2 separate regions of the Homo sapiens genome follow, and region 2 is linked to region 1. The links come from fine-mapping of genetic effects on gene expression. A gene starts in region 1. The other region holds a variant in brackets. All regions are shown on one strand. Distances are from middle to middle.

Evidence for each region.
Region 2: its variant is fine-mapped to the expression of IDH3A in whole blood (TOPMed, PIP above 0.99).

Annotation. Positions count from the first base shown.
Region 1 is chr15:78,141,098-78,157,078 of GRCh38, reverse strand. IDH3A (isocitrate dehydrogenase (NAD(+)) 3 catalytic subunit alpha) reads right to left here and starts at 7,717. Exons shown (of 11, transcript NM_005530.3): 1 at 7,649-7,717; 2 at 1,804-1,866. The coding sequence starts at 7,675. LOC124903534 (a long non-coding RNA gene) reads left to right here and starts at 7,860. Exons shown (of 2, transcript XR_007064725.1): 1 at 7,860-7,971; 2 at 9,347-13,800. RefSeq lists a silencer at 7,178-7,757.
Region 2 is chr15:78,176,648-78,192,628 of GRCh38, reverse strand. ACSBG1 (acyl-CoA synthetase bubblegum family member 1) reads left to right here. Exons shown (of 14, transcript NM_015162.5): 6 at 9,844-9,924; 7 at 10,014-10,163; 8 at 10,484-10,660; 9 at 11,693-11,874; 10 at 12,849-13,079; 11 at 13,798-14,015. Among named protein-coding and RNA genes, the nearest start is that of IDH3A, 35 kb to the right of the region's middle. The variant G/A (reference allele first, on the strand shown) is at 8,128.

The sequences.
Region 1 (15,981 bases):
CAGTCTTGCAAAACATTTTCAGACACATTTCCAAAATATTACTGAGGTCTGTTTTGGTACTCAGGGAAAATCAGACTTTTTATCAAGAGAGCTTCCATTTTTTTCTTAGTTCCTCTATAAAACTGTCTGCTTAAATCTAAGAGTAATCTACATAAGCTTGGCAAAGTTGATCTGCAACCAAAAAGAATAGTATATGTCATCATACCTGCAAAGCCTGAGTCACACTTAGAATGACAATTATTGTTTTTATAATGTAACAGCAATGATTTATTCTAAGGCTTCAGGCAAAACGAAGCCAGCATTTCAAATGCAGAAATAAAAATATGTAAGGGAGAAGATCAGCACCTCTTTTTCCATTTGGGAACCACATATTTTATTATCTTGGGACTTTACCCCACCTAGGGGCTTGGCTTTTTTTCAGTTCTAGTTGCTTGAACTGCATTTTTAAAAAGTCACTAATTCAAGTTTCCTTGGTCCTTTGCCTTCCAATGATGTCTGCCCAGATACGTGGACTAATTATTTCTGATTAGTTTCTGTACAACTGAAGAAACATTTTTATTTTTTTCATTTTTCTAATTTTCAATTTTTATTTTTTAGAGATGAGGACTCACTACATTGCCAGGCAGGAGCACAGTGGCTACTCACAGGTGTGATCACAGCTCACTGCAGCCTCGAACTCCTGGCCTTAAGCAAATCTCCCACCTCAGTCTTAGCCAGGGCTAAGGCTCATACCAGTTTTCTCGGGTTGAAGAAGTCTTTAAAAAAATTAATACATCCTCTTATTTCTTCAAAAATAACCTCCTCCATCAAGCTAATTTTTTTTTCAAATAAATAGCCTGAAAATTAAATAATAGCAGAGAGCAATGATCATCTTATTAGCTTTCAGAATGCGTTTGAAATGCTAGCATGGCTATCCTTGAGCTTGAAGTGCAAGCCCCATCCTGCATTTTTGGCATAAGCAGAGCCAAAAGAACGCTTTGGCTACTTCTTCCTGTTCTCCCAACATGTAATAATAAATGTCATCCAGTCACCAGAAAATCTGCTTTTCTTCCACAATACAGAAAGTAAATGGAGGAAAAAATGTACTATGGTCTTATAAATCTTTCACGGCATAGATGTTATATGGGAGTATAGGAATTATGAAATCCAAATCAGATTCCATAAAAGGCGGGGCGGGGATCAAAACAAATAGGAAGTCACTGACCCACAGTCTTAGAATGTTCCAAAAATGTGGTATCAGCTTTTAAAGCACAGAATTCTGATGCTGGGAATTCTAAAAGCAGCAGATTTAATGAACAATAGATGATCTACTACTGTGATAGTCTACAAAGCCTATATAAGGCAAGTATAAGCCTACAAGGCTTATAGATGTTCGAGGCATTCCTAATTGGCACTCAATCTACTGGGTTTAGGGAAGCCCATAAAATAAAAATGCAAAGCAGGTTTTGAAGCTTCTCAACAATTTTCTCTCAACTTGTACTAGTTTTGAAAAAAGCTGTCTCACCAAAATGAGATTGTGAAATAAAATAACAGGCTCAAGGGTACTTTCTATTTTTAACAAGGCTCCCTCAAGATATTAATGTGACAAACTTACATAGCCAGCTGTAAGATAATTCTTTCAAATGCGCAAGTAACCTAACAGATTTGTGCATGTCAGCCAGTAATTTCAACATACATTATAAATATGGCCAATTTTCCCAAATTCTAAATGAATGGAGATAAAATGCTATATAATAAATATGTTAGAGCATCTTTCTTGAGAAACTTCTAAAAGGAAAAAATAAAAGACATAATTATACTCACACCACCAGTAAAACCTCTGGTCACCTGTTTTGGGTTGTGGAATGCCCCCAGCAGCCGAGAGACCTATATTAATATCAACAGAGAAATATCACACACAGAATTAAACCACATACAGTAAACAAGAGCGAGGAAGTCCTGATGGATGGTAATGCTGCAACTTGGCACAGATATATTCAGTAGCTTCCCAGGAATACAAATCTCATGTATTAGCTCAATGTGGCAAGCTATCTCAGATTTGAAAGCCTAAATACTCAGATTTTTACTTTAGATTGAGTACTGTATATTTTCAAAGTCAATTTAACGAATATAAGTTGTCAAATAAAAGATGTTGAAGGTAGAATAAAACTACTTTTTCAGCTCAACATACAGATTCTTCTCAGATGAGTGGATCATTTTGTGCCAACATTCTTGACCATTCGGTCAATTTAGGGGTAACATATATTCTAAGAAAATTACCATTAATTTTAGAGCCAGGATGTTCCTCATGAAATCCAGAGCACAACTCACTTATTTCTTGTTGTTGTTTTAGGCTTTTTGAGATGGGGTCTCCCTAGGTTGCCCAGGATGGAGTGCAGTGACTATTCAAAGGCACAATCATAACTCACTGCAGTCTCCAACTCCTGGGCTCAAGTGACCCTCTTGCCTCAGCCTCCTGAGTAGGTGGGATTACAGGTGTGCACCACGACACCTGGCAACTTGCTTATTTCATAAGCGGAGATGCTGGTCCCAAAGAAAAGCATTTGCCTAAGGTCACACAGCGAATAATTGGCAAAATGGAAACCCACATACAGGTCTTCTGACTCCTGGTCCAGTGCTCCTTCAATTATACATTATATCTATTCTGTGAATATTAAGAAATTACACTTTATAGTAAAATCTAAGAAAGTTTATTTAATACCATCTGATGCCCATGCCATACAGAATAAAGATTTTAAATAAATTACTGCTTCTTCTGATAATATAGGTAATGTGGTCATTACTGTCAGTTTGCTGGGACTAGGAAAAGATACAAAATATAAAATAAAAGTTACCCAGTAATCCCACCACACCAAGATATTACCACTGGTACGTGTTTTTTTTTTTTTTTCTCTCTCCAATTAACATCATATGCCAGAAATATAAATTTTAAAGGTTTATTATAAACTTTAATAACTTAGTCCTTGAGAACTGGTACAAAGTCATACTACATTATTATAAACAATATAAAAAAAGAAACTGGGTACATAGACCAAAGGTATTAAAATGCATTAAATTTTTTTTTTTTTGAGACAGAGTTTCACTCTTGTTGCCCAGGCTGGAGTGCAATGGTGCAATCTCGGCTCACTGCAACCACCACCTCCTGGGTTTGCCTCAGCCTCCTGAAAGTAGCTGGGATTACAGGGATGCACCACCATGCCCGGCTAATCTTGTTGTATTTTTAGTAGAGACAGGGTTTCTCCATGTTGGCCCGGCTGGTCTCAAACTCCTGACCTCAGGTGATCCACCTGCCTTGGACACCCAAAGTGCTGGGATTACAGGCATGAGCCACCACACCCGGCTGCATTAAATTTTTTAAAAAGTAACTTTTTCTCCTGCTAGATACATGAGCAAAGACACATTTGTTATATCCTATCTTGATGTTTTTTTCTGGGGTCTGAACCTTTGCTGAAATATTTATTGGTAACAACCAACAGCCAAGAAAGGTATGAATGAATTTTATTCTCTAATCTTCTGGTATCTATAGTCATGACTCTGCATTGAAAATAAGACTGGGCCAAATCCAAAAGAATGCCAAAACCATTGGCCAAAATGTTAATCCTAGGGCATGATTCATCCACCAGCGAGTGGGCTATTGGAAGGGAGGCCATTTAAAGGCTACTTTGTGACAAGAAAATTGACATGTGTCCTTTCTCCTCTCCCTGAACAAAAAAGAAGGAAAAGACATTCACACAAAACTCATGTCCTTGTGACAGAAGACCCAACCAACCAGGCTGTGCAACAAAGTGAGACCCTGTCTCTACAAAATTAGCCAGGTATGGTGGTGCACACCAATGGTCTCAGCTACATGGGAGGCTAAGTCGGCTTGAGCTCAGGACTGCTTGAGCCCAGGAGCTTGAGGCTTCTGTGAGCTATGATTATGCCACTGCACTCCAGCCTAGGTAATGGACAAAAAAAAGAAAAAAAGAAAGAAAGAATGAAAAAGACCCGACTCAAACAACTGATTTTAAAATGTAAACCCATCCTACCTGCATATGCTGGGGGCAGCAATGTAAACCCAGGAGTGTAAGGATTTGTGTTTTGTTCACTGTTGTATCTAGTGTCTAGAACAGTCCCTGGCTCATAGAAGGTATTCAATAATTTAAAAAAAAACAAAACAACAATCAAACAAAACTGAGTCCAGCCTCAGTCACATCTCTATCTGAAGAGTTTCCAAGCCAACAAGTAGCCTTAATACTTGCAATGATCTTCTTTAAGGACCAGTCTTTTCCATGTTTGTCATCTCTCTTGCATGATCTTAGAATAAAGCAGTACTGCACCTAAGTCATCACAATGACCCAGAACTTTAAGTAAAATAAAATTTTCCAAAGCACCATTTAAAGGTTACTTCGTGACAAGCAGAGCATAAAAGTGACATGAGGCCGGATGCGGTGGCTCACGCCTGTAATCCCAGCACTTTGGGAGGCTGAGGCAGGCAAATCACCTGAGGTCAGGAGTTCAAGACCAGCCTGACTAACATGGAGAAACCCTGTCTCTACTAAAAATACAAAATTAGCCAGGCGTGGTGGCACATGCCTGTAATCCCAGCTATTCAGGAGGCTGAGGGAGGAGAATCACTTGAACCCAGGAGGCAGAGGTTGCGGTGAGCCAAGATCGCGCCATTGCACTCTAGCCTGGGTGACAAGAGCAAAACTCCATCTCAAAAAAAAAAAAAAAAAAAAGGCCGGGCGCAGTGCCTCACGCTTGTAATCCCAGCACTTTGGGAGGCTGAGGCCGGTGGATCACCTGAGGTCAGGGTTCAAGACCAGCCTGGCCAACATGGTGAAACCCTGTCTCTAATAAAAATACAAAAATCAGCTGGGTGTGATGGTGGGTGCCTGTAATCCCAGCTACTTGGGAGGCTCAGGCAGGAGAATCGCTTGAACCCAGGAGGTGGAGGTTGCAGTGAGCCAAGATCTCACCATTCCACTCCAGCCTGGGCAACAGGAGCAAAACTCTGTCTCAAAAAAAAAAAAAAAAAAAAAAAAAATTGACATGAGTCCTTTCTCCTCTCCCAGCCCAAAAAAGAGGGAAAAGACATTCACACAAAACTAGCTTATGTCTCTGTGACAGAAGACCTGACCAATCAGCCTAGACAACAGAGTGAGACCCTACCTCTACAAAAAAAATTTTAAATGTTAGCCAGGTATGGTGGCACACACCAGTAGTCCCAGCTTCATGGAAGGCTGAGATGGCAGGACTTCTACTTTATAGAATACTCATATGCATATATATATATATATCTCACATCATTTTATTTATATAAAACCTGTAGAGATAGGCATTATTGGCACTTTTCAGATGAGGAAACTGAGGCCAGGTTCATGAAGCCTGGACCAAAACCCTGAACTTTGGACTTCAGGTCGTGGGCCATCTTAATCCACAACTCATTTCCTTTTTAACTTAAAAACATGTAAATAGTGTTGTACATGGGTTCTGAGATGGGTTTTAAAAAAAAAATCTTTTTTTTTTTTGAGACAGAGTCTTGCTGTTACCCAGGTAGGAGCATGATCTCCTCTCACCGCAGCCTCCACCTCCTGGGTTCAAGTGACTCTCCTGCCTCAGCCTCCCGAGTAGCTGGGATTACAGGCGTGCGCCACCACGCCCAGCAAATTTTTGTATTTTTAGTAGAGATGGGGTTTCGCCATGTTGGCCAGGCTGGTCTTGAACTCCCGACCTCAAGTGATCCGCCCACTTTGGCCTCCCAAAGTGCTAGAATTACAGGCATGAGCCACCATGCCTGGCCACAACCTGAAATGGAAACTCAACAGAGGAACTGTCCTGATTGAAACCGGCATCCAGCTCAGCACCTCCACCATCCTGGGGTCAGCCTCTGAGCCACCTTCTGCTCCAATCCCTAAAGTGAGAAGCTGGCCCAGAAGTCAAATGACTCTGCCAAAGGTCACACAGGGAGTGCATGTCAGAGAACCTCATCTTCTGACTCCACAACCCAACACTTTCTGAATACCTACTATGAGGGTTTTTTCATGCAGATCACACTAAAGGCAAAACAGATTTACCAGCACAATCATTATCAAGTGTTGCTTTAGTGCCTCACTGTGAAGGCAAATGTACCTACCAAAGATGAATTGGGTGTTAAATGTAAGTTCAGAGATTAAAGGACTGAGTTCAGTTTTCACAGTGACACAGAAGTTGCTTTACTTTTAGGAGCAAATGTGACATAAGAGTTATCATCACAAGCAAATCTGGGTCTGAAGAGGGTGACAAAGTAGAATCTAGTTATTGAACAAAAAAACCAGTTAATGATGCCCATGAAAACCACTGTCTGTTGGAGACAGATAAACATATTGATAAGAAAGCTTCAGATTTTTGTTTTCCTTCTGTACATACCAAGTGCTTTCACATACATTATTTTATTTAATACTCAAACAATTCTGTGATGTAAGTATAGATATTCACAGATGGGCATATTAAGGCTTAGAGATGTTTAGTAATTTGCTTAGGGTCACACAGCCAATCAGTGGCATTGCTAGGATTTAAATCTGAGACTCCTAAATTCCAGTACAGAGATCTTTTCCTTAAATAACAGTGCATCTCTGGACCTCTCTTTAAACCGAAAAAATGGGAGAAAAGTAGTATCAAACTTACAGAAAAACGTTAAATTGTTTATAGATTTCTAGGGGACCACCCTTTCATAGCAACAGGAGACTTGAGGCCTGATGGCCTGTACCATCATTTGCTATGTGACCTTGGGAAATGGGAACCAAGACACCTAGGTTCCTCTCCCTGCTCTGACACCGACCTCCTGTGTGACCTTGAGCAAATTCTTCTTCAGGCACAGGTTAGTTCCACTGAGAAGCTACGGAACTGCATAGATGATCTGAAACCCTTTCCAGCTCTGGCATCTGAGCTGTCAAGGAGAGCTAAAGCGCTCCAGATTGCAGGATTCCCACCAATGAAAGGTAAAAGGAAGGCTCTGCTGGTCTCTCTCTCCGAAGGTTCAGACGGTAATTCCGAGGTGTAAGATGCCCTATCCTATGAAGGGGAAATAGCTACAAGAGCACTAGAGGTCTGACTGGGAAGAGCGCCAAAGGGAAAACAATCTGATAGGGAAAAGGGCCCCCGGATTCTCTCACCTGGGAAAACCTCCCAAGCTCAACGCCAGTGCCCGTGGCACCTGCGGTTCCCCGGCCAAGGGCCGCGCAGACAGCGGATGAGAGGTGTGGGCAGTGCTGAGGGGATCAGTCCCGCAGCAGGGCCGCAGCCGGGGAAGCGGCCCGGATGGCGGAGCCGGGACAGAGGCTCCCGTGACCTTCCCGGGCTCGGCGCGAAGCCTGGGCTCTGGCCTGGGCGGATGCGGGTGACGGCAGCCGGGTCTCGGCAGGAGCAGGGCCGGCGCCCCCCCGCCTTGACCTTGACGCCGTCCCCGCCTCTGCGCTGCTGACCCGGCCCGGGGCGGCCCATACACTGCGAGCCGGCCACGGAGCGCGGGGCACGGGCGACCAGGACCGGCTCCCAAGCTGTCCCCGCGGGCAGCCACCGCCTCCCTGTCTGGCCCACGCGCCCGCCCACACCCGGCACGCGACCGGCTCTCCTGCCAGCCCTCGCGGCCTGCCTGCCTGCCACACGCCGGCCTGCCAGCGCTCACCTTAGAGATCCACGCGGGCCCAGCCATCGCTTCCCCTCCTGGCTCCGCAGCAACAGCCGCAGCGGCAGTGCGCAAGCGCCCACCCCACGCTCGGAGCCCGCCCCTGCACGGCCACGCCCCCTGAACGCCCCGCCCCCTAGACCGCCTCAGGATTGCTTCGCGCTCGCTCGCTGCCCCGCCCCTGGACATTCCGCTGGCGAATCGCCGGGCTCGTCTCTCTGTGACTGGCCTGGCTGAGCGCCAGGCGAACCCGGAAACTGAGGGGCCGGCATCTCCGGGAAAGCTTCTTCCTCCCCTCCCTGGTTCATTGACTCGCTGTTAAGGTAAGACGTTTGTTCCACACCTACTAGGTGCTGATTAATGTTCTAGGATCTTGGGGATATAGCGCTCCTCATAGAATTTACAATCCCGTGGAGAAAGACACATAATTTTCTTATTCCACAAATTTTGATTTTTTTTTTTTTTTTGAGACCGGGTCTCACTCTGTCGCCCAGGCTGGAGTGCAGTAGCGCGAACAGGTTCACTACAAAGCCTCGACCTCCTGGGATCAAGTAATTACTAAGCCCAGCCCAACTTTGTTTTTTCTTTTCTTTTTCTTTTTTTTTTTTTTTTTTTTTCTCCGTAGAGATGGGGCCTCGCTATGTTGCTCAGGCTGGTCTGGAACTCCAGAGTTCAAGCGATCTGCTTGCCCCAGGCTCACAAAGTGAGCCACTGCGACTGGCCGAATTTTATTTTTTACCAGCTTTATTGAGGTATAATGTATATATAGTAACATTTACTCACTGTAAGTGTACAGTTTGATGATTTTTAGTAAATGTAAACAGTTGCACAACCATCACCACAATCCAGTTTTTGAGCATATGAAAATGTTCCTTGTGTCCGTTTATAGTCAATCCCGCTCCTGTCCTCAATCCCAGGCAACTACTAATCTGTCTATTTAGCTCAACAAATATTTCTGAGGGTCAACTAGACACCAGGCACTGTTTTAAGTGCTGGGGCTTAGTGTCCAGTAGGAAAGACAGGCTTCAATCAAGTGTCACACACATGTCATTAAAACTGTTGCGCCAAGAAGCAAAAGAGCAAGGAGCTATGGCAAGGCAAAATCAGGCAACCTGATTCAAACCTAACCTGGAGGTCAGGGAATGCTTCTCTGAAGAAATAACATCCATACTCACCTTTCCCCTTGTCCTCTCCCTGTCCATCACAAACTCCTGAGTTCCTGCTGATGGCCAGGCCTCTAGCTGGGTGCCAGGGGAGGTCAGGTGTTTAAACCAGGTCTCTGCTACCCTACCCTGGGAAGAGTTCTATCCAGAGAGGAGCTGCCTACCCACCCAGAGAGGTGATGAGTGCAGTAGAGAAGTGATCCCAAGAGCTTTTATGACCTAAATAATAAACTGCAGCTAAGTCTGTGGCCTTGTCAGGAAGGAGGGCTTTTATCAACCCCTTTCCATTGGGCCCCTTCCCCTCATCAGGCCCTGGCAGTCCCATCCTGAAGTGTTCTCCCACAGTTCCTCCATCCCCAATGTCACCCCTGCCCTCCTTCGGGCCAGACCACCTCAGGCCCAGGCTCTTACAACAGCCTCTTCACCTGCCAACCTGCCCTCCCCTTCAGGCACAGCTCTGACCAGGGCTCGCCCCGGCTCTGAAACCTCCTGGCTCTCCCTTGCACTCTCCTCTCACACCACTGTCTTTTTTCAGCCTGATTTCCCACCACTCCTTCCAGCCCCAAAGACCTGGAGCGCCTGCCAACTAGGACTGCTGGCCAGCCCCCAAATGCTTCCCATATTTTACCTCTCCGTGCCTATGGTCGTGCCATTCCCTCAGCCTCAATGCCCTCTTGCCCCACTTCTACTGGCTGAAATTCTAGCTCCTTGTCAAGACTCAGCTTACATGTTGGGAAGTAGTAAAAGTTGTAAAAGCCCCCAAGACCCACGAATGTGTCCCCCTCTCCTTACTCAGAGCCCTCTAGCACTTGGCTCCCACCTCTCCTGGGAAACATCACATTCTCTTCTGCTGTGTGCCATTGAGAAGATAAGCTTTGGGCCAGGCGTGGTGACTCACGCCTGTAATCCCAACACTTTGGGTGGCCGACGCAGGTGGATCACTTGAAGTCAGGAGTTGGAGACCAGCCTGGCCAACATGGCAAAACCCTGTCTCTACTAAAAATACAAAAATTAGTTGGGCGTGTTGGCACATGCCTATAATCCCAGTGACTCAGGAGACTGAGGCATCAGAATCGCTTGAACCCACGAGGCAGAGGTTGCAGTGAGCCGAGATCATGCCACTGCACTCCAGTCTGGGTGACAGAGCGAGACTCTGTCTCAAAAGAGATAGAGAGAAGATATGCCTTAAGTCCAGAGATAATCTTGATGATCTCTTATGACGTTGTTTCTGGAACAGAGACTGGTACACAAGGAATACTTGCTGCTCAGTGATTGTGAAATAAACATTGACTGACTTTGTCCAGTCTTCATTTAATCTTCACAACAACCCTATGAGAAAACTGAAGTACAGCTAGTAAGTGATGATGCTGGCATTCACACTAGGAAGCTTCCTAAGTACTAAGGCAGTTCTCCTAACTGCTGAACTTTCGCTGAGGGCCAGTCCAATCCTACAAAGGCTTCCCAAGCCATTCTCTAGCAAGTGCACTGTGAGAACAAAAAATGAACAAGACCCACTCCTACCCTCCAGATCTAGTGAGGGAGAAACTCAGAAGTCTCAGATGGAAGTTGGGGGGTGATCAAGGAAGATTGCACAATGGAGATGGCATTTGAATCAGTCCTTGAAGAGGTAAAATGTCAGCAGCTGGAGGGACATGCAGGAAACAGAAATGACCTCACCTTGAGCTGAGATCTGTTCCCTGAGTCAGCCCTTGGCTCCAGAAGCCCCAGTCACCATTCCTCGAACATGTTCTAGAGTTCCTCCAAGATGCAGGTCACTCTCCTCTGGAAAAGCCCTTTTTCCTTGTCCCTTGCACTGTGTAGTGCCCAGAGATACCATCAGCAAAGTATGTTTGGACAAGACGGTGGGAAAACTTTGCCACTCAGGAGAAGAATCTAGAAAGTGCACCCTTATCTGTAATAACAAGCACTATCCAATCCAGGTGTGCTTCACTCTAAGGAAAAAAAAAAAGATTTTAAAATCAAGAGGCCAGGTGCGGTGGCTCACTCCTGTAATCGCAGCACTTTGGGAGGCAGAGGTGGGTGGATCGCCTGAGGTCAGGAGTTTGAGACCAGCCTGGCCAATATGGTGAAACCCCATCTCTCCTAAAAGTAACAAAAATTAGCCAGGGGTGGTGGTGTGCATCTGTAGTCCCAGCTACTCAGGACGCTGAGGCAGGAGAATCACTTGAACCTGGGAGGCGGAGATTGCAGTGATCCAAGATCGCACCACTGCACTCCAACCTGGGTGACAGAGCGAGACTCTGTGTCAAATAAATAAATAATAAAATCAAGATAGCAATTTTTAAGTGAATAAATCAGCAAAACAGAATATACATTATTCACATACCAAATGTTTATTTTTTGTTACAAAAGAAATTCATTTCAACAGTTTTCCTACTTTATTTAAAATATTATTTTCATTAAAGATATGATTGGCAAAGGGTTCATCCCTATCTCTAAGTTAGGAAAAGATCCAACAAATTGGTAAAGAAGGTATTAGGACTTTAGTAAATAAATGGGAAAAGGGGACTGGGCGCGGTGGCTCACGCCTGTAATCCCAGCACTTTGGGAGGCAGAGGTGGGTGGATCACGAGGTCCGGAGTTCAAGACCAGCCTGGCCAAGATGGTGAAAGCCTGTCTCTACTAAAAATACAAAAAATTAGCTGGGCGTGGTGGCGGGTACCTGTAATCCCAGCTACAAAGGAGGCTGAGGCAGAGAACTGCTTGAACCTGGGAGGCCGAGGTTGCAGTGAGCCGAGATCGTGCCACTGCACTCCAGCCTGGGCGACAGAGTAAGACTCTGTCTCAAACAAAACAAAACAAAAAACATAGGCCGGGCATGGTGGCTCATTCCTGTAATCCCAGCACTTTTGGAGGCCGAGGCGGGCAGATCACAAGGTCAGGAGGTCAAGACCAGCCTGGTTAACATAGTAAAACCCCCTCTCTACTAAAAATACAAAACTTAGGGAGGCATGGTGGTGCACACCTGTAGTCCCAGCTACTGGGGAGGCTGAGGCAGGAGAATCACTTGAACCTGGGAGGTGGAAGTTGCAGTGAGGCGAGATCACACCACTGCACTCCAGCCTGGGTGACTGAGTAAGACTCCGTCTCGGGAAAAAAAAAAACAAAACAAAACGGGAAAAGGACCTGAATAATCAATTCACAGCCAAATAAACTTTTAAATAAATGTTCAATCTTAACAATAGTCAAATGCATGCAAATTTCTAAAAAAAATTATTTTTATTTAAAAATATTAATAAAATGCAATGCCTTATACCATCCAATTTATGGCGCACTGCTTGGCTGGCCTTATACATTTCCACAATCTCTTTGGAAAACAGTTTAGCAATGTGTCTTAAGAGAGACATTAACTGTTCTTACTCTTTCACCTAGTAAATCCATTCCTGAGAATTAAACTCTTGGGGAAAAAAATCCAGAAAGAAAAAGCCATCAACACAAAGATATTCATTATACAATTATCCTTAATTTTGAAAACTAAAAAGAGAAAAAAGCAGTCTAAATGATTAACAGAAGAAATGGTTATGTAATTTAGGGGAAATGAATGAAGTGGACCATCATGCAGCCTTCAAAAGTGATCAATGGCCTGGCATGGTGGTTCACATCTGCAATCCCAGCACTTTGGGAGGCCGAGGTGATCACTTGAGGCCAGGAGTTGAAGACCAGCCTGGGCAACATAGCAAGACATAGTCTCTACAAAATATAAAAATTTAGCCAGGCATGGTGGCATGTACCTGTAGTCCCAGCCACTTGGGAGGCTGAGGTGGAAGGCTCACTTGAGCCCAGGAGTTAGAGGCTACAGTGAGCCATGATTGCACCACTGCACTCCAGCCTGGATGACAGAGGAAGACCTTATCTCTAAAAATAAAATTAAAAAATAATTTTTTTTTTTGAGATGGAGTCTGGCTCTGTCGCCCAGGCTGGAGTGCAGTGGCGCTGTCTTGGCTCACTGCAAGCTCCGCCTCCTGGGTTCACGCCATTCTCCTGCGTTCATGCCATTCTCCTGCCTCAGCCTCCCAAGTAGCTGGAACTACAGGCGCCCGCCACCATGCTCAGCTAATTTTTTGTATTTTTAGTAGAGACAGGGTTTCACCATGTTAGCCAGGGTGGTCTTGATCTCCTGACCTCGTGATCCGCCTGCCTCGGCCTCCCAAGTGCTGGGATTACAGGCATGAGCGACCGCGCCTGGCCAAAAAAAACATTTTTAAAGTGAGTATTATGAAGACTTTAGCATCTTGATAAATGTTTATGGTTGAATGTTCAGAAAAAAATAAAAATTTAAACTATTATCTATGTTCTCTTATAACTTCTTTTTATATGTGAACAAAGAGTAGAAGGAAACCTGCTCCCTCCCACAGAATTCCCCCACCCAATAAAATTCAACTCCAGCCTTCTAGTTGCTGAGGCCAAAAGCCTGAAGATGAGCTGTTTTCAAAATAGGTTCAGTTTTGGACACTTTTCCCCTTGGCAGCTGCTGCCACCAGGGTCCAAGTCAGAGTTACCTCTTGCCTGAACCAACACAGTGGCCCCCAAACTGGCTTCCCTACTTCTACCCCTTAAAATCCATCTCCTGCCAGAGGGATTGTGTTCAAACATAAGACAGATACATCCTTCTCTGCCCAAAGCTGCCAGCGACATCCTGTCTCTCTCCAAGTAAAAGGCAATGCCCTGGCAGTGCCCCATAAAGCCCTAAAGGGTCTAGTCCTGCTAGCCCCTCTCTGAGCTTCTCCCCCACCACTGTCTCCCTTGAAGCCGACCTACCTCCTTGCTGTTCTTTAATCGGCCATGCTTCCTCCCACTGCAGGGCCTTTGCACTTACTGCTCCCAATGCCTGGAATGCTTTTCCATATGGCTTGTTCCATCAGCCACTCCCCATCTCCCCTCTCCCAGACCCTGGCAACCACCAATCTCTTTTACATCCCAATGTATTCACCTACTCTGGGCATTTCATATAAACGGAGTCATAAAATATCTGGTCTCTTGTGTCTGGCTTCTTTCATTTAGCATGATGTTTTCAAGACTTATCCATATCATAGCATGCATCAGTCCTTCATTCCTCATGACGGTCAAGTTATATTCCATCACATGAATAGACCACATTTTATTCATACGTTCGTCAGTTGATGGCCATTTGAGTTGTTTTCGCTATTATGAATGATGCTGCTATGAACATAGGTTTTCTTTCTGATTTTCTTTATTGTTCTTGAAAGGTTACTTGTCAATAAAAATTGTGTTCCTAAAAAGTCCCTATACCTCAACTTTCTAGCAGCACATGTATTGCCTAAAATGCGCAACACCTCTACTGCCTGCCCCGTCATATGTCATTAAAGCCCAGAATTGCACCCTTCCCTAGAGGAGTGAAAAGATGTCTGAGATGAGTCTTCAATCAGGAGATTTTTCCCTTTGTCACGCCTCCCTGTTAATAAACAGGAGGCATGGCAGAGCCTAGCGGGAAGGAGCTGGGCCCTGGGGAAACTTGCTCCCAAATGTTCCACTGCAGTGACTTCAGGCCAAAAAAAGTTGCTCTGAATACATGTGTTTCCACAGATGGGTTTTACTGCGTGGTCCCTCCAGCTATCATTGCCGAGCCACCTACTATGTCAGGATGGGGCAGGAAGTCAGAGGGGCTAGAGATGAAGGATTTCTATCCCCTACCTTGGAGGAGCTCCTAGCCTCTGAGGGCCTGGGCAGGTACACAGATCACCACAGGAGGAGGGAGACACCTCATGGGCAGCTCTCACTGGTCTATTCATCCTGCATGGAGAGACTCAGCAATGATTACTGACTAAAGAGATGAACTGTTACTACGACTTTGCACTTTCCACTCTTCTGTGGCCTTGAGAGAAATCAAGGCCCACACAGCCCTGGGCCTCAGGCCTCTCCACCTAGAAATTCCAGGGCTCTCCAAACTTTCACAATGAAAACTGAACTCATTACTCTCCCCAAAACCTGCCCTCTCTCCTGTGTTCCCATCTCAGCAGAGGGCCTCATCACATACCTAGGTGGTTACCAAACCAGAGTATCAGCCTCAATTCCTTCATCACTCATTCAGAAAAGATTCTTTGTGCATCTGTGATATTCCAGGCCCTATGCTAGGCACAAAGAAGAATGGAGTAACCCAGGGGAGGCGAAGTCCCTGCCTCCTGAACCTTAGAGTGGTTCTCAATGCTGCCAGATGCTCCCTTTTTATAACAAATATTTTGAATATCCTCTTTACCATACTGAAACGAAATTCATGGATAATCTAAACCACTTATACACATAATGAAAAAACAAAATCAATATAATGCTGCTACTGTAATATGAAAGAGAAATAAAAGGAATACTGTAATAAAATAATGGGTTTCAATACATAAATGCTCAGGCCTAAACTCTAAAAGACATTATGAAGCAGTCACATGCTTGCACCTACTTATAACAAGTAAGTTTGGATTTGAGAGAGGTATGATAATATTCAGGCCACAGTTTTTATCTTTGACATTTAAAAATAAGAGCTAAAAAAGTAGATGTTAATAGACCATGAATCACAGTGATGGTGACGTTCACAAATGCAGATGAATACAGGTGTGTTGTATGGGGTCAAGCAAAATTCTTTTTCTTTCTTTTTTTTGAGACAGGGTCAAGCAATCCTCCTACTTCAGCCTCCCAAGTAGCTGGGAATGCAGTCATGAGCCACCACTCCCAGCTAACTTTTTAATTTTTTGTAGAGATAGGGTCTTGCTATGTTGCTCAGGCTAGTCTGGAACTCCTGGGCTCAAGCAATCCTCCCGCCTCAGCCTCCTAAAGTGTTGGGATTACAGGCATGAGCTGCTGCACCAGGCCACATCAAGCAAAATTCTTAGTTGCCACAGGCATCTGGGTTAATTTCTTCTTTCTCAATCACAAGTCACGTTGCCATCTCCGATGTTACCTCCAAAATGGTGATCGAGTCTTGTTAAAGTTTTGAACAAAGTAAATTTTAGTCTTCCCTTGATTTGCATTCCTGGATAACTGAACATATGTTAAGATCACACAAAAAGGAGTTTATTTATAAAACAGAGTTGGGTTCCAAGCTCAGGTCATTATAAACAGGTTTGTTTCCTACAGGAGTATCTGGTTGATCTCCTCAAGGTCCTGCAGGACATGAGACATTCTCCAGTGGGCAGGATTGTC
Region 2 (15,981 bases), 36 kb before region 1:
AGTATCCTTGGGGGATACCAGCAGGGCAGCGCCAGAATCCTTGGGGGAGACCCAGGCTGCAGCCCAGACCCTTGAGGCAGAACCTCTTGGAGGGCATCCCCAAATCAGAGTGAGTTTGAAAATAGCCTCAGGTGAGGCTGTGGGCAGCCCAGGCCAAGAACTTCTGGCTCACGGCAAAATAAAATGAAGCCCCGGGAAGACCTCAGAGCTGCCTGGATAGACGTACAAAGGCCTCTGAGCAGGGTTTAAACTCAGAGGTGGTGTAGAGAAGTGGGTGAACACACACACTTGGGCTGGACCTGCCAGAGCTCAAATGCAGTGTGGCCTTGGGGAGGATGGTGACAGCCGCAGAGGTCACCTGGAAGGGCTGGTATGAGGGTAACTCTTAGACCAGTGTCTGACTCTTGGTGGGCACTTGTATTCATTTGCCAAGGCTGCTGGAAAAGGGTGGCTTCTGGGGTTGGCTGGCCATTTTTGTGTTCCTTGGCTTGTAGACGCATCACCCAGGCCTCTGCCTTCATCCTCAGCTGGCGTTCTCACAGTGTCTTCACGTCGTCGTCCTTCTGTGTCTGTCTGTGTCCAAATTTCCCATTTCTATAAGGACACCAGGAATATTGGATCCAAGCCCACCCTAATGACTTTGTTTTAACTTCATTACCTCCATAAAGACCCTATTTCCACATAAGGTCACACTTGGAGGTACCAGCTATGAGGGCTTTGGCATATCTCTTTGCGGCGGGTTGTGGAGGGGGAGACAATTCAACCCATGGCAGCACCATATAAGTGCTTTTAAATCATTATGTCACCCCATAGGTGATACCATGTCCTTCATAATGCACCGCCTCAAGAGGCACATGATGGCAGGTGGTACTACTTTCAGTTATGTTGGGCTTCTTCATGACCACCTTCTCTTCTTCCACTGTGAAATTCCCCATCAACCTTTCTCCTGATGGTTTTAGCATCCCTTGATGATGTTTGCCTGAAATTAATTATTTTATTAGGTGTAGCAAAATGTTGAATTTCTAATTCATTGGCTGGAATTCTCCAAAGAAAGAACTTTCCCTCATTACCTGGGGCTCTTTGGTACCTGAGACACTCTGTTTGTACAGAGTAGGTGTGATAGAATAATGATCAATTTTGGTGAATGTTCCATGCATATTTGAAAGAATGTGTACTCTGCAGTTGTTGGCTAGAAGGTTCTATAAATGTTAATTAAATCAAGTTGGTTGGTAGTATTTTAATGTTGTCTTCTGTATCTCTATTGATTTTCTGTCTTCTTGCTCTATCAAATACTAAGAAAGGGAATGTGGAAATCTCCAATTATTATGGTAGACATCTATTTTTCCTTCCGGTTCTATTAGGTTTTGCTTTATGTATTTTGGAGCTCTGTTATTAGGCATATACGTGTTTAGATTATTATGTTTTCTTGATAAATTAACCCTTGATCATTAAGAAATGTTCCTCCTTATCCCTGGTAATAATTCTTGTTCCAAAAGTATTTTGCCTCAAATTAATATAGCCACTCCAGGTTTCTGATAATTAATGTTTGCATTATGTATTTTTGTGTTCTTTTAATTTTAACCTAGCTGTGTCTTTATATTTAAAGTGAGTTTCTTGTAGACAGCACATAGTTGAGTCTTGCCCTTTTATCCAATCTGATGAAATTTGTATAAATAGCCACCATTTGGCTATTTTTTTATTTGTCCCATCTATTCTTTGTTCCTTTTCTCCTCTTTCCTGACTTTTTTGTCTTTTTTATCTTGTTTTCTTTTGGTCTTCCATTTGATCTTCAGTGGCTTATTAGCTATCCTTTGTTACTATATCAGTGTTTGCTCTGATTTTACAATATGCATCTTTAACTTATCACAGTGTACTCTCCAAGATACCAGTTCCCATGAAATGTGGAACCATACAACAGTATACTTCCACTTCCCCTCCCATCCTTTCAGCTGTCGTCATCCATTTTACTTCTATAGAGGTTATAAACCCCACAAACATTGTTATTACTCTTGCTTTCAACAGTTGAGTATCTTTCTTTCTTTTTTCTTTTTTTTTTTTAAGACAGGGTCTCACTTTGTCACCCAGACTGGAGTGCAGTGGTGCAATCATGGCTCACTGCAGCCTCAACCTCCTGGGCTCAAGCAATCCTCCCACCTCAGCCTCCCAAGTAGCTGGGACTACAGGCATGTGAGGCTGCAGTGAGCCATGATTGCAACACTACACTCTGGCCTGGGTGACAGAGTTAGACCCTGTCTTAAAAAAACAAAAAGAAAGAAGGAAAGATACTCAACTGTTGAAATCAAGAGTAATAACAATGTTTGTGGGGTTTATAACCTCTATAGAAGTAAAATGGATGACAACAGCTGAATTTTTGTATTTTTTGTAGAGACAAGAGTCTTGCTATGTTGCCCAGGCTCATCTCAAATTCCTGGGCTCAAGCAATTTGCCCACCTCGGCTTCCCAAAGTACTAAGATTACAGGCGTGAGCCACTGCACCCAGTCCAGCTGAGTATCTTTCAGAGAAAATTTTAAAGAAGGAAATAATATGTTTCATATTTACCCACATTTTTGCCATTTCTGATACTCTGTCTTCCTTTATGTAGATCCAAGTTTTTATCTGATATCATCTTTTCAGCCTTAAGAACTTTTCTTTTTTTTTAAAGATTTGTATTAGTATTTTATTACAACTATTCTGTTTGTTCTTTTATATTCAACATCCCACATTTATGTATGAAATGTACAGACCAAAACTTATTATTGCCAATTACTTTTTTAAATTTATTTTTATTTATTTTATTTTATTATTATTATACTTTAAGTTTTAGGGTACATGTGCACAATGTGCAGGTTAGTTACATATGTATACATGTGCCATGCTGGTGTGCTGCACCCATTAACTCGTCATTTAGCATTAGGTCTATCTCCTAAAGCTATCCCTCCCCCCTCACCCCACCCCACAACAGTCCCCAGAGTGTGATGTTCCCCTTCCTGTGTCCATGTGTTCCCATTGTTCAGTTCCCACCTATGAGTGAGAGTATGTGGTGTTTGGTTTTTTTGTTCTTGCGATAGTTTACTGAGAATGATGATTTCCCATTTCACCCATGTCCCTACAAAGGACATGAACTCATCATTTTTTATGGCTGCATAGTATTCCATGGTGTATATGTGCCACATTTTCTTAATCCAGTCTATCATTGTTGGACATTTGGGTTGGTTCCAAGTCTTTGCTATTGTGAATAGTGCCGCAATAAACATACGTGTGCATGTGTCTTTATAGCAGTATGATTTATAGTCCTTTGGGTATATACCCAGTAATGGGATGGCTGGGTCAAATGGTATTTCTAGTTCTAGATCCCTGAGGAATCGGCACACTGACTTCCACAAGGGTTGAACTAGTTTACAGTCCCACCAACAGTGTAAAAGTGTTCCTATTTCTCCACGTCCTCTCCAGCACCTGCTGTTTCCTGACTTTTTAATGATTGCCATTCTAACTGGTGTGAGATGGTATCTCATTGTGGTTTTGATTTGCATTTCTCTGATGGCCAGTGATGGTGAGCATTTTTTCATGTGTTTTTTGGCTGCATAGATGTCTTCTTTTGAGAAGTGTCTGTTCATGTCCTTCGCCCACTTTTTGATGGGGTTGTTTGTTTTTTTCTTGTAAATTTGTTTGAGTTCATTGTAGATTCTGGATATTAGCCCTTTGTCAGATGAGTAGGTTGCGAAAATTTTCTCCCATTTTGTAGGTTGCCTGTTCACTCTGATGGTAGTTTCTTTTGCTGTGCAGAAGCTCTTTAATTAGATCCCATTTGTCAATTTTGGCTTTTGTTGCCATTGCTTTTGGTGTTTTAGACATGAAGTCCTTGCCCATGCCTATGTCCTGAATGGTAATGCCTAGGTTTTCTTCTAGGGTTTTTATGGTTTTAGGTCTAACGTTTAAGTCTTTAATCCATCTTGAATTAATTTTTGTATAAGGTGTAAGGAAGGGATCCAGTTTCAGCTTTCTACATATGGCTAGCCAGTTTTCCCAGCACCATTTATTAAATAGGGAATCCTTTCCCCATTGCTTGTTTTTCTCAGGTTTGTCAAAGATCAGATAGTTGTAGATATGCGGTGTTATTTCTGAGGGCTCTGTTCTGTTCCATTGATCTATATCTCTGTTTTGGTACCAGTACCATGCTGTTTTGGTTACTGTAGCCTTGTAGTGTAGTTTGAAGTCAGGTAGTGTGATGCCTCCAGCTTTGTTCTTTTGGCTTAGGATTGACTTGGCGATGCAGGCTCTTTTTTGGTTCCATATGAACTTTAAAGTAGTTTTTTCCAATTCTGTGAAGAAAGTCATTGGTAGCTTGATGGGATGGCATTGAATCTGTAAATTACCTTGGGCAGTATGGCCATTTTCATGATATTGATTCTTCCTACCCATGAGCATGGAATGTTCTTCCATTTGTTTGTATCCTCTTTTATTTCCTTGAGCAGTGGTTTGTACTTCTCCTTGAAGAGGTCCTTCACGTCCCTTGTAAGTTGAATTCCTAGGTATTTTATTCTCTTTGAAGCAATTGTGAATGGGAGTTCACGCATGATTTGACTCTCTGTTTGTCTGTTATTGGGGTATAAGAATGCTTGTGATTTTTGTACATTGATTTTGTATCCTGAGACTTTGCTGAAGTTGCTTATCAGCTTAAGGAGATTTTGGGCTGAGACAATGGGGTTTTCTAGATATACAATCATGTCATCTGCAAACAGGGACAATTTGACTTCCTCTTTCCCTAATTGAATACCCTTTATTTCCTTCTCCTGCCTAATTGCCCTGGCCAGAACTTCCAACACAATGTTGAATAGGAGTGGTGAGAGAGGGCATCCCTGTCTTGTGCCAGTTTTCAAAGGGAATGCTTCCAGTTTTTGCCCATTCAGCATGATATTGGCTGTGGGTTTGTCATAGATAGCTCTTATTATTTTGAGATACATCCCATCAATACCTAATTTATTGAGAGTTTTTATCATGAAGGGTTGTTGAATTTTGTCAAAGGCCTTTTCTGCATCTATTGAGATAATCATGTGGTTTTTGTCTTTGGTTCTGTTTATATGCTGGATTACATTTATTGATTTGCATATATTGAACCAGCCTTGCATTCCAGGGATGAAGCCCACTTGATCATGGTGGATAAGCTTTTTGATGTGCTGCTGGATTTGGTTTGCCAGTATTTTATTGAGGATTTTTGCATCAATGTTCATCAAGGATATTGGTCTAAAATTCTCTTTTTTGGTTGTGTCTCTGCCAGGCTTTGGTATCAGGATGATGCTGGCCTCATAAAATGAGTTAGGGAGGATTCCCTCTTTTTCTGTTGATTGGAATAGTTTCAGAAGGAATGGTATCAGCTCCTCCTTGTACCTCTGATAGAATTCGGCTGTGAATCCATCTGGTCCTGGACTCTTTTTGGTTGGTAAGCTATTGATTATTGCCACAATTTCAGAGCCTGTTATTGGTCTATTCAGAGAGTCAACTTCTTCCTGGTTTAGTCTTGGGAGGGTGTATGTGTCAAGGAAAGTATCCATTTCTTGTAGATTTTCTAGTTTATTTGAGTAGAGGTGTTTGTAGTATTCTCTGATGGTAGTTTGTATTTCTGTGGGATTGGTGGTGATATCCCCTTTATCATTTTTTATTGTGTCTATTTGATTCTTCTCTCTTTTCTTCTTTATTAGTCTTGCTAGCGGTCTATCAATTTTGTTGATCCTTTCAAAAAACCAGCTCCTGGATTCATTAATTTTTTGAAGGGTTTTTTGTGTCTCTATTTCATTCAGTTCTGCTTTGATTTTAGTTATTTCTTGCCTTCTGCTAGCTTTTGAATGTGTTTGCTCTTGCTTTTCTAGTTCTTTTAATTGTGATGTTAGGGTGTCAATTCTGGATCTTTCCTGCTTTCTCTTGTGGGCATTTAGTGCTATAAATTTCCCTCTACACACTGCTTTGAATGTGTCCCAGAGATTCTGGTATGTTGTGTCTTTGTTCTCGTTGGTTTCAAAGAACATCTTTATTTCTGCCTTTGTTTCGTTATGTACCCAGTAGTCATTCAGGAGCAGGTTGTTCAGTTTCCATGTAGTTGAGCAGTTTTGAGTGAGTTTCTTAATTCTGAGTTCTAGTTTGATTGCACTGTGGTCTGAGAGACAGTTTCTATAATTTCTGATCTTTTACATTTGCTGAGGAGAGCTTTACTTCCAACTACGTGGTCAGTTTTGGAATAGGTGTGGTGTGGTGCTGAAAAAAATGTATATTCTGTTGATTTGGGGTGGAGAGTTCTGTAGATGTCTATTAGGTCCGCTTGGTGCAGAGCTGAGTTCAATTCCTGGGTATCCTTGTTAACTTTCTGTCTCGTTGATCTAATGTTGACAATGGGGTGTTAAAGTCTCCCATTATTATTGTGTGGGAGTCTAAGCCTAGTCTCTGATAAAACAGACTTTAAACCAACAAAGATCAAAAGAGACAAAGAAGGCCATTACATAATGGTAAAGGGGTCAATTCAACAAGAAGAGCTAACTATCCTAAACATATATGCACCCAATACAGGAGCACCCAGATTCATAAAGCAAGTCCTGAGTGACCTACAAAGAGACTAAGAACTTTTCTTTAACATTTCTTATAATACAGGTCTGATGGCAATACATTCTTTCAGCTTGTCTTTGTCTGAAAAGGTGCTTGTTTTTCTGTTCATTTTTTAAAAGTCATTTTATCTGATTTAGATTTATGGGTTCACAGGGTGGGTTTTTTTTTCTTTCAGCACTTTAAATATTTCATTTCAATGTTTTCTATTTGCATCATTTCTAACAAGACGTCTACGATATCTTATTTTCGTTCCTCTCCACATAGTGTTTTGTTTTTCTGGCTGCTTTTAAGATTTTTTTCCTTTTTTGCTGATTTTCAGCAATTTGGTTATGTTGTATCCTAAGGTGGTTTTCTTTGTGTTTATTCTGCTTAGGAGTCATTCACCTTCTGAAATTGGTAGATTTATAGTTTTAATCCACCAATTTATATTTGAAAATTTCTCAGACTGTTTTTCAATTAAAAAAATTTTCTGGGACTCCAATTACATGTATATTTGATTTTTTGATATTGTCCCACAAGTAATTTTTTTCCATTTTTTTTTCTTTCTGAACTTTATTTTGAGGCTATGTTTAAGGCTTTTTAGGCCAGGCCTTTAGGTAGTCTTTACTCTAAGGCTAATTTAGCCTCATCACTAAGACATGACCCTTCTGGGCTCTGCTTAATGCCTGATGGGGTCCCTCCATGCTGGTGGGGGGAAACATGAGCAATTCCTACATCAGCTGCTGTTTGACTTCCAGCCCTGGTCATTGGTCTTCCTCCAGCTTCATGGAGTTTCACCCTATGCATGAGCAGATGGGGAGTCAATCAAAGACCCTAAAAGAATTTCTAGAACTCTTTCTCTATATAGTTCTCTCCTGTCTGCTGGTATTCTATCTCACAAATTCTAGCCGCCTCAGCTTTCCTGAGTTCTGATCTTGGTCACCTCAACTCAGTAAGACAACTGGGTTCTGTATTCCTCTCTCTCTCTCTCTCTCTCTCTCTCTCCCTCCCCTCCGCCCCTTTCTCTCCCTCTCTCTCCCTCTCTCTCCCTCTGTCTGTCTCTCCCATAGCTCAAAAATTGCCCCTGGGCAGAAAGCTGGGGCACACTTAGAGGCTCACCCCATCTGTTTCCCTCTCTCAGGGATATCAGTCCTGAGCTGTCTGTAGTCCAGTATCTGAAAACAATTGCTTTCTCTCCAAACAAGATGGCCAATGTGTACACCGTATGGGCACTGGGGCCCTGGGCGCCAGCTGGGGCCTGCTGGGCCCACCCAGCTATTCTATTTGTCCAGTTTCCTAGTATTTACAGTGCAACGATGGATGTTACTCCCTTGTGATCAGAATCAGAAGTCTCAGGAATATATATTTTAGCAAAAAATCAGGAGTTCACACTGATATTTCTGTTATTTCTATAACTTTTCAAATGTTATATTGTGAGGTTTTAGCTTACTTTATTTATTCTTGTATTTCTTTTATTTTACCTTAAAATCTTAGTTCCTTATAGGATTAACATAATCCTACAGTATATATCAAATAATTTTGAAATAGTATTATCA[G/A]TATTATTACCAACAATAAGGCCAGGTGCAGCAGCTCATTCGTATAATCCCAGCACTTTGGGAGGCCAAGGCAGAAGGATCTCTTGAGCCCAGGAGTTCAAGATCAGCCTGGGCAACATAGTGAGACCCCCCTGTCTCTACAAAAAAAAAAAGGAAAAATTTAATTAGCGACATGTGGTGGTGTGAACATGTAGTCCCAGCTACTCGGGAGGCTGAGGCAGGATCATGGGAGCCCAGGGGTTTGAGGCTGCAGTGGGCCATGATCATACCATAGAGCAAGAACCTGTCTCCAAAACAAAACAAACAAAACCAACAAAACAAAACCCCAGAAACCAATAAGACTATTGCATAGAATTTGAAATTCCTTTTTGCCTTTAGAGTGCCACTGAAAAAGAGGAATCAAAGTGTACTATTATAAAATTCCTTGATCTTGATGTAATTCTGTGTGTGTGTGGTTATGTTACTAACTTAGTATGTAGTCTAATTCATTTCTTTCTTTTTTTTTCTTCTGGTTCCTTGATCTTGGGCTAACTTATTTCTTTCAGAGTGTTTTCAAGTTTTAGGAACTCATTTTTTCCCTTTCTAAAAATTTTGTAGTGTTCCCCGCCCCACCCGCCCCGCCCCAAAGATACGGCCTCACTATATTGCCCAGGCTGGTCTCAAACTCCTGGCCTCAAGCAATCCTTCTGCCTCAGCCTCCCAAGTAGCTGGGATCACAGGCATGAGCCACCACACCTGACTTCCTTTTACATATAACTTTATTTTTCAAATGGTTAAGACATTTACATGATTCCAAAGTCAAAATCATGTGAGATAACACTCAAAGAATTTTTGCTTCCATCCCTTTCTTCTTCCCTTTATTCCCGCTCTTCCTATACACAGTGAATTCAATCAGGTTTTGGTTTAACCTTCGAGTTTCTTTTTGTTTGTTTGTTTTGAGACAGAGTCTCTCTCTGGAGTGCCGAGGAGCAATCTCGGCTCACTGCAACCTCTGCCTCCCGGGCTCAAGCGAGTCTCGTGCCTCAGTCTCCCGAGTAGCTGGGATTACAGGCATGCACCACCACACCCGGCTAATTTTTGTATTTTTAGTAGAAACAGGGTTTCACCATGTTGACCAGGCTGGTCTCGAACTCCTGACCTCAAATGACCCTCCCACCTTGGCCTCCCAAAGTGCTGGGATTACAGGCGTGAGCCACCACACCCGGCCTCTTTTTGTAAACATAAGTAAATACTTGTTTGCATACATATATTTACATTGCACCCCTTTCTTACACAAATATAGCATACTATGCGCATATTGTAAACTTCCTTTTTTCACTTAATAATATATCCTAGAAACCACTCACTCTCTGCACATAGAATTCTCTCCCTCTCTCCTCTGCCCTCTGCTCCTCTCCCTCTTTCTCCTACAGTCACATAGCACTACTCCATTGTGTGGCTGGATCATGGTTTGTTCAACCAAGCCCCAGCTTGTTTGGTGGTTTTCCTTCAATGGGGAGTCATCCCCAGTCCCCTGGCTATCCCCACCTTTACTGCTCCCAAGTTCTCAGGAGGGAAACTATGGGTGAAGGGTGGCAGTTGTCCTGCTGGGGTCGAAGGTCAGAGACGGGGCACCCAGAGACCTTTACTAAGCCGACTCACACAGGGAGATGGGGTACTTTTTAGAAGGTGACATTTCTCTTACTGAAACCTGATCTATTTTTCCTGTCAATGCAGATCTGGAAACAGTTGCCACATCTAAAGGCAGTCGTGATATATAAAGAACCTCCTCCAAACAAGATGGCCAATGTGTACACGGTATGGGCAGTGGGGCCCTGGGCGCCAGGTGGGGCCTATTGGGCCCACCCAGCTGACCTAGCCTGCCTGCTCCCTGCATCTGGCTACAGATGGAGGAATTCATGGAGCTGGGGAATGAAGTGCCTGAGGAAGCCCTGGACGCCATCATTGACACCCAGCAGCCCAACCAGTGCTGTGTGCTAGTCTACACTTCCGGCACCACTGGGAACCCCAAGGGCGTGATGCTGAGTCAAGACAATGTAGGACAGATGCCCGGTGGGGTGGGGGGGGTGCAAGGGGGTTATGGGTGGATCTGGGCCATGGCTCTGCCCCAGTAGCCCCTGGGAAAGCTCCTTGGGCCCCTCTGCTCTAGGAGCTGGGATAGGTAGAACAGCCCATCAATCTGTGGCCCAGACTGAGCTCAGCAAGGGGGAGGGGAGGCCTGTCCTGGGGTTTTCAGAGCCTGCAGAATCGCCACAGGGGGCACCACACTGGGGCTGGCCCCCAGGGTGGCCACAGTTGTGAGCACCGCCAGGGCTGGCTTGTGGACACTGCTGGGATCCATCTACTTGTCCTCCAGATCACGTGGACGGCACGGTACGGCAGCCAGGCCGGTGACATCCGGCCGGCAGAAGTCCAGCAGGAGGTGGTAGTCAGCTACCTGCCCCTCAGCCATATTGCCGCCCAGATCTACGACCTGTGGACAGGCATCCAGTGGGGGGCCCAGGTTTGCTTTGCCGAACCCGACGCCCTGAAGGTCAGTCTGCCTTTACCGTGTGTCCGTCTGAGCCCGTGTGCCAGGCCACGTCCACATGTGTCTGTGGGCCCTGAGTGCATTTGTGTGTGTGCTGTTCCTGTGCATGTATCAGTCAGAATTCTGTCAGCTGCAGTGGGCACAGCCTGACTCGAATGACCAAACAAGAAGGGAAACTAGGCCGGGCACGGTGGCTCACGCCTGTAATCCCAGCACTTTGGGAGGCCGAGGCAGGCACATCACGAGGTCAGGAGATCAAGACCATCCTGGCTAACACGGTGAAACCCCATCTCTACTGAAAATACAAAAAATTAGATGGGAGTGGTGGCAGGTGCCTGTAGTCCCAGCTACTAGGGAGGCTGAGGCAGGAGAATGGCGTGAACCCAGGAGGTGGAGCTTGCAGTGAGCCGAGATCACGCCACTGTACTCCAGCCTGGGCAACAGCATGGCCCAGTCTCAAAAAAAAAAAAAAAAAAAAAAAAGAAACCTGATGCCATTACATAAGGTCGAGTCAGAGTGGTTCGCGGGACTTGTGACACGATCAAGGACGGGCATCCTCAGAGTATCACCAGAAGGCTACAGCCCTTCCCTGAATCCCAGCTTCACAGGATATACCTGTTCTTTGGACCCTTATTTTAACTGTGAGGAAAACTTTCCCAGAAACCCCCCAGCAAGTTTCCCTCCACCAGCATCTCAGTGTCCCAAAGTGTCACCTGTCTGTTCTCAAACCATATGCTGCCGAGGGGAATGGGATTCTTGTGTCTAAGTTAGACTCATGGAGAGTTGCCATGCTCAGGGCTGGGATGAGACTGAGGTCAGCACTGGCTGCCTGACTGCTGCCTGCCACCAGGGTTCTGTGAGCAAAAAGCAAGGCGACAGCCATTGAGGAAACAGTATGTGCCACCCTTGCGTGCAGGTGTGTGTGGGTGCCCGTTGGAGCATGTGTGTGCCACCGGCATGCCTGGCTGGTAAGAGGGGACCCCTGGGCCCCAGATGCCCCTGACCCAACAGGCCTGCCTCTTCTGGTGTGAACAGGGGAGCCTGGTGAACACGCTGCGGGAGGTGGAGCCCACATCACACATGGGGGTGCCCCGGGTATGGGAGAAGATCATGGAGCGCATCCAGGAGGTGGCGGCTCAGTCTGGCTTCATCCGGCGAAAGATGCTGCTGTGGGCCATGTCGGTGACCTTGGAGCAGAACCTCACCTGCCCCGGCAGGTACAGAGGGCCCACGGGCGGGAGGCCTGGGGAGAGAGTGGGCTGGGTCATAACCCAAAACACAGTGAGGGTCTGATACGCCATGCCTGTCCCGGTTCCAGTGGCCGGGCAGCTCTGGAGACCCCGTGCAGAGGCCCCATCAATGACTGGGCTTGAGCTCCTGTGCGTTTCCCAGGGCCTGCTGGGGACAGTCGCTCCACCTTTGGATTCTGACTGGGAGGAGTAACTTGCTTTCTCTGAAGTGAAATTCACCTCCCTAGGAGCAGCTTCTGGCACAATCTCCTGAGGTCTCCTGACCTCAGTAAGTGGCTGGAGAAGGGGCCACAGTGATCAGGACTTAGCCTTTCCGGCCTTTTCAGCATCCCAAGTGACCCCTCAGATATTTTGCCCTTTCTATCTTTCTATAGCTTTCAAAATTCCCACATAGTTCTATGGAGGGTCAGTGACGTAAAGCTGGCTTGGTTTCAATTTAGAAGTAGTTTCCATTCCCCATGTGCCTGTGAAATGGTATGTTTCATGAGATGTGTGCACATATCTGTGCATCCACAGCTTCATTTGCACAGACACGAAACATGAACATGCACGAACAAAGCATTTGTGGGCTTCACTGGGGTCCCACGTTTGTACATGTGTATACATGAATACATACTTCAAGTTTCTGTGCATGTGTATTGTGTGTGCAAAATGGCATGTGTCTGTGTTGTTGCCCGTACACCTGTACACAGCTGAATCTGTTTGACTTCCTGGGTCAAGACATATTTGCACACAACCATGTGCCTGCATACCTACATCTGCATGCATGTTCACGGGCAGGTTCAATATTCAAACCAACCAACTGGAACAGACAACTGGAATGGCCGAGCCAGGGTGTTCTCACTGAATACCACCATACCACCCTTTTAATGTGTGTATGTGTGTGTGTGTGTGTGTGTGTGTGTGATTTCTTCTGTGAACCATTCTCCCTCTCCCACCAGCGACCTGAAGCCCTTCACAACCAGACTGGCAGATTACCTGGTGCTAGCCAAGGTTCGCCAGGCACTGGGATTTGCCAAGTGTCAAAAGAACTTCTATGGAGCGGCCCCCATGATGGCAGAGACACAGCACTTCTTCCTGGGTCTCAACATCCGCTTGTATGCGGGCTACGGCCTCAGTGAGACCTCAGGCCCCCACTTCATGTCCAGTCCCTACAACTACCGGCTGTACAGGTGAGGCTCGAGGCTGCCACACACATGCACACCCATGCGCCCTTGCTGGTACTTTGTGCCCGCCTGCTGAGTGCCCTGGGGATCCCCTTCTCTTTGCATGCCAGTTGGGTCCCAGAGACCTGGCCACTGGGCTATGGAGCCCCTGAGAGCCAACAATGCCATCTTGGGCCAAGTCCCTAGCTTATCCTCAGTCTAGTAGGAGTGGCCTCTGCCACCGTGTCGTGAGTCTGTGGTTGAAAACAGCCTGCATAGCCCAGGTGCCCCCTGAACCTATGGAGCAGTTTTCCTCTGGCCCCTCCCTCTTTTGGAGTGGGGTGTGCTCCAGTGTGTTCTAGGAGAGCAGATGGCCCAGGGGCCAGCTGGGGTAGGAGTTGGGGGGACCAGGCCAGCCTCCTAATGGACGGTGAGGGCGGTCAGTTCTGGGGAGTGATTTGCAGGATCATCTATTATGATTAAATATCTCCTCTCCCTGCCAGCCTATCACAGTGCTCCAAGTTCTACCATTACCATTTCATTTGTTCCTTCCTTCCTTCATTCCCTAAAACCCTTTACTTGGCTCTACCTTTCAGCTGTAAGTCCCCTGTAAAAATACAAAAGCCCTGTGAGGGGATACCTTCTAGCAATCAGTGAAGACCGAGCAGTTGGGACCCCGGCTCCCCAGTGGGGGCTTGGAGGAGACGGCTCCCTCTGACCAGTCTCCCGGCCCCTCCCTCGCCAGCTCAGGCAAGTTGGTGCCCGGCTGTCGGGTGAAGCTGGTGAACCAGGACGCAGAGGGCATTGGCGAGATCTGCCTGTGGGGCCGCACCATATTCATGGGCTACCTGAACATGGAGGACAAGACTTGTGAGGCCATCGACGAGGAAGGCTGGCTGCACACGGGTGATGCTGGCCGCCTGGACGCCGATGGCTTCCTCTACATCACTGGGCGCCTCAAAGGTGAGCACCCCAGGCCAGGCACGGTGGCTCATGCCTGTAATCCCAGCACTTTGGGAGGCCAAGGCGGGCAGATTGTCTGAGCTCAGGAGTTCAAGACCACCCTGGGCAGCACAGCGAAACCCCATCTCTACTAAAAACACACGAAAAATTAGCTGGGCGTGGTGGCATGCACCTGTAATCCCAGCTATTCGGGAGGCTGAGGCACGAGAATTACTTGAACCCGGGAGGCAGAGGTTGCAGTGAGCTGAGATTGCCTCTTTGCACACCAGCCTGGGAGACAGAGCTAGACTCTGTCTCCAAAAACAAAACCAAAACAAACAAACAAAAAAAGGCAAGCGCCCTGGACAGCTGCAGTGGGGTGGGAGCAGGAATTCCACTGCCAGCACTGTTTACACCAGCTGCTGGTCTTGAGCCTTTATTAAGATGGCACCTTTAGTGACATCGTTTTATTTACTCCACTCTCCTATGGGGCAGGTACTTATTAACCTTAACTTGCTAATGAGGACATCCAGAGAGGTTAAGTAACTTGCCTAAGGTCACCCAGCTAGTAAATGGCAGAGCTGGAAATCAGACCCCTAGAGAAACAAGGCAAGTCTTTCCAGAAGATTCAGGAGCGTAAGTATTATGTATTTTTATATGCAAACATGGATATGATGGGGAATAGAATGCAAATTGGATATAAAATTTAAAATAAGACAAACTTCCCACAGAGACAGAAATAGTTGGGGATGCCTCTGTGGAAGAATGTTCTGCCTGCTTCACCCAAGTTGGTGTCATGCCCGCAGCATCCACGTGGGAATCCTGCACCAGGGCTTCATGGGGGAAACTGAAGCTAAGTTGAGTGGGTAAACTACTTTGTGGACATCATGCAGGCAGTGTGCGACCATGCCCAGGACCCAACTGATGGCCATGGAGGCTCGGCCACCCCAGGGAGGGACAAAAGGTCGCGGTGGCGTTTGGGCCCTGGGATGTGCAGGCTGATGAGCCCTGGAGGTACCCTCCAGTGAGACCCCGGGAGCAACAGGTGACTGCTTGGATGTGCCATGGGCGCCGCCTAGTGTGCCTCTTTGTAATGGCCGATGAGGGGACCCACATCCCTGCATGGGGGAGGATAGTAGCCAGAAAACCAAATTCAACCAGAGCCGGCCCTCCTTTTAGAACTAGTATAGTGAGAGGTAAGGGTCCAAATAGCTTTTCTCCAAATACATATCCAACGGACACAGCATCCTTTCCCCATGGCCTTGCAGTGATACCTTTGTCCTTTATGAAGTGACTGTCTATGAGAGGTCTATGTGTGGACTCTATTCTGTTCCCTTGGTCTATTCGCCTATCCGTGCACCAATACCCAGTGTCTTAATTTCTATAGCTTTATGACAGGGATAGATATCCGGCTAAGTCCTACAGCCTTGGTCTTCTTCTTCTTCAAGATGACCTTGGCTATTCTTGGCCATTTTCATTTCCATATGAATTTTAGAATCATTATATGTTTCCTCAAAAACTGGGTGGAATTTTGATTTTGATTTCATTGAATCTATAGATCAATTTGGTGAGAAAAATACATGTTTATAGTATTGTCTCTTCCAATTCACAAATATGATAAATCTCTCCATTTACTTAGGTCTTTTTAAGTTTCTCTCAATAATGTGCTATTTATTTATTTACCTATTTATTTATTTATTTATTTTTGAAACAGGGTCTCGCTTTGTTGCCCAGGCTGGAGTGCACTGGCGTGATCTCGGATCACTGCAACTTCTACCTCCTGGGCTCAAGTGATCCTCCGGTCCAGCCTCAGCCTCTCAAGTAGCTGGGACCACAGGTGCAAGCCACCACAACTGGCTAATTTTTTATTTTTGTAGAGACAGGGTTTTGCCATGTTGCCCAGGCTGGTCTTGAGCTCCTGAGCTCAAGCCATCCTCCTGCCTCAGCTTCCTAAAGTGCTGGGATTATAGGTGTGAGCCACTGCATC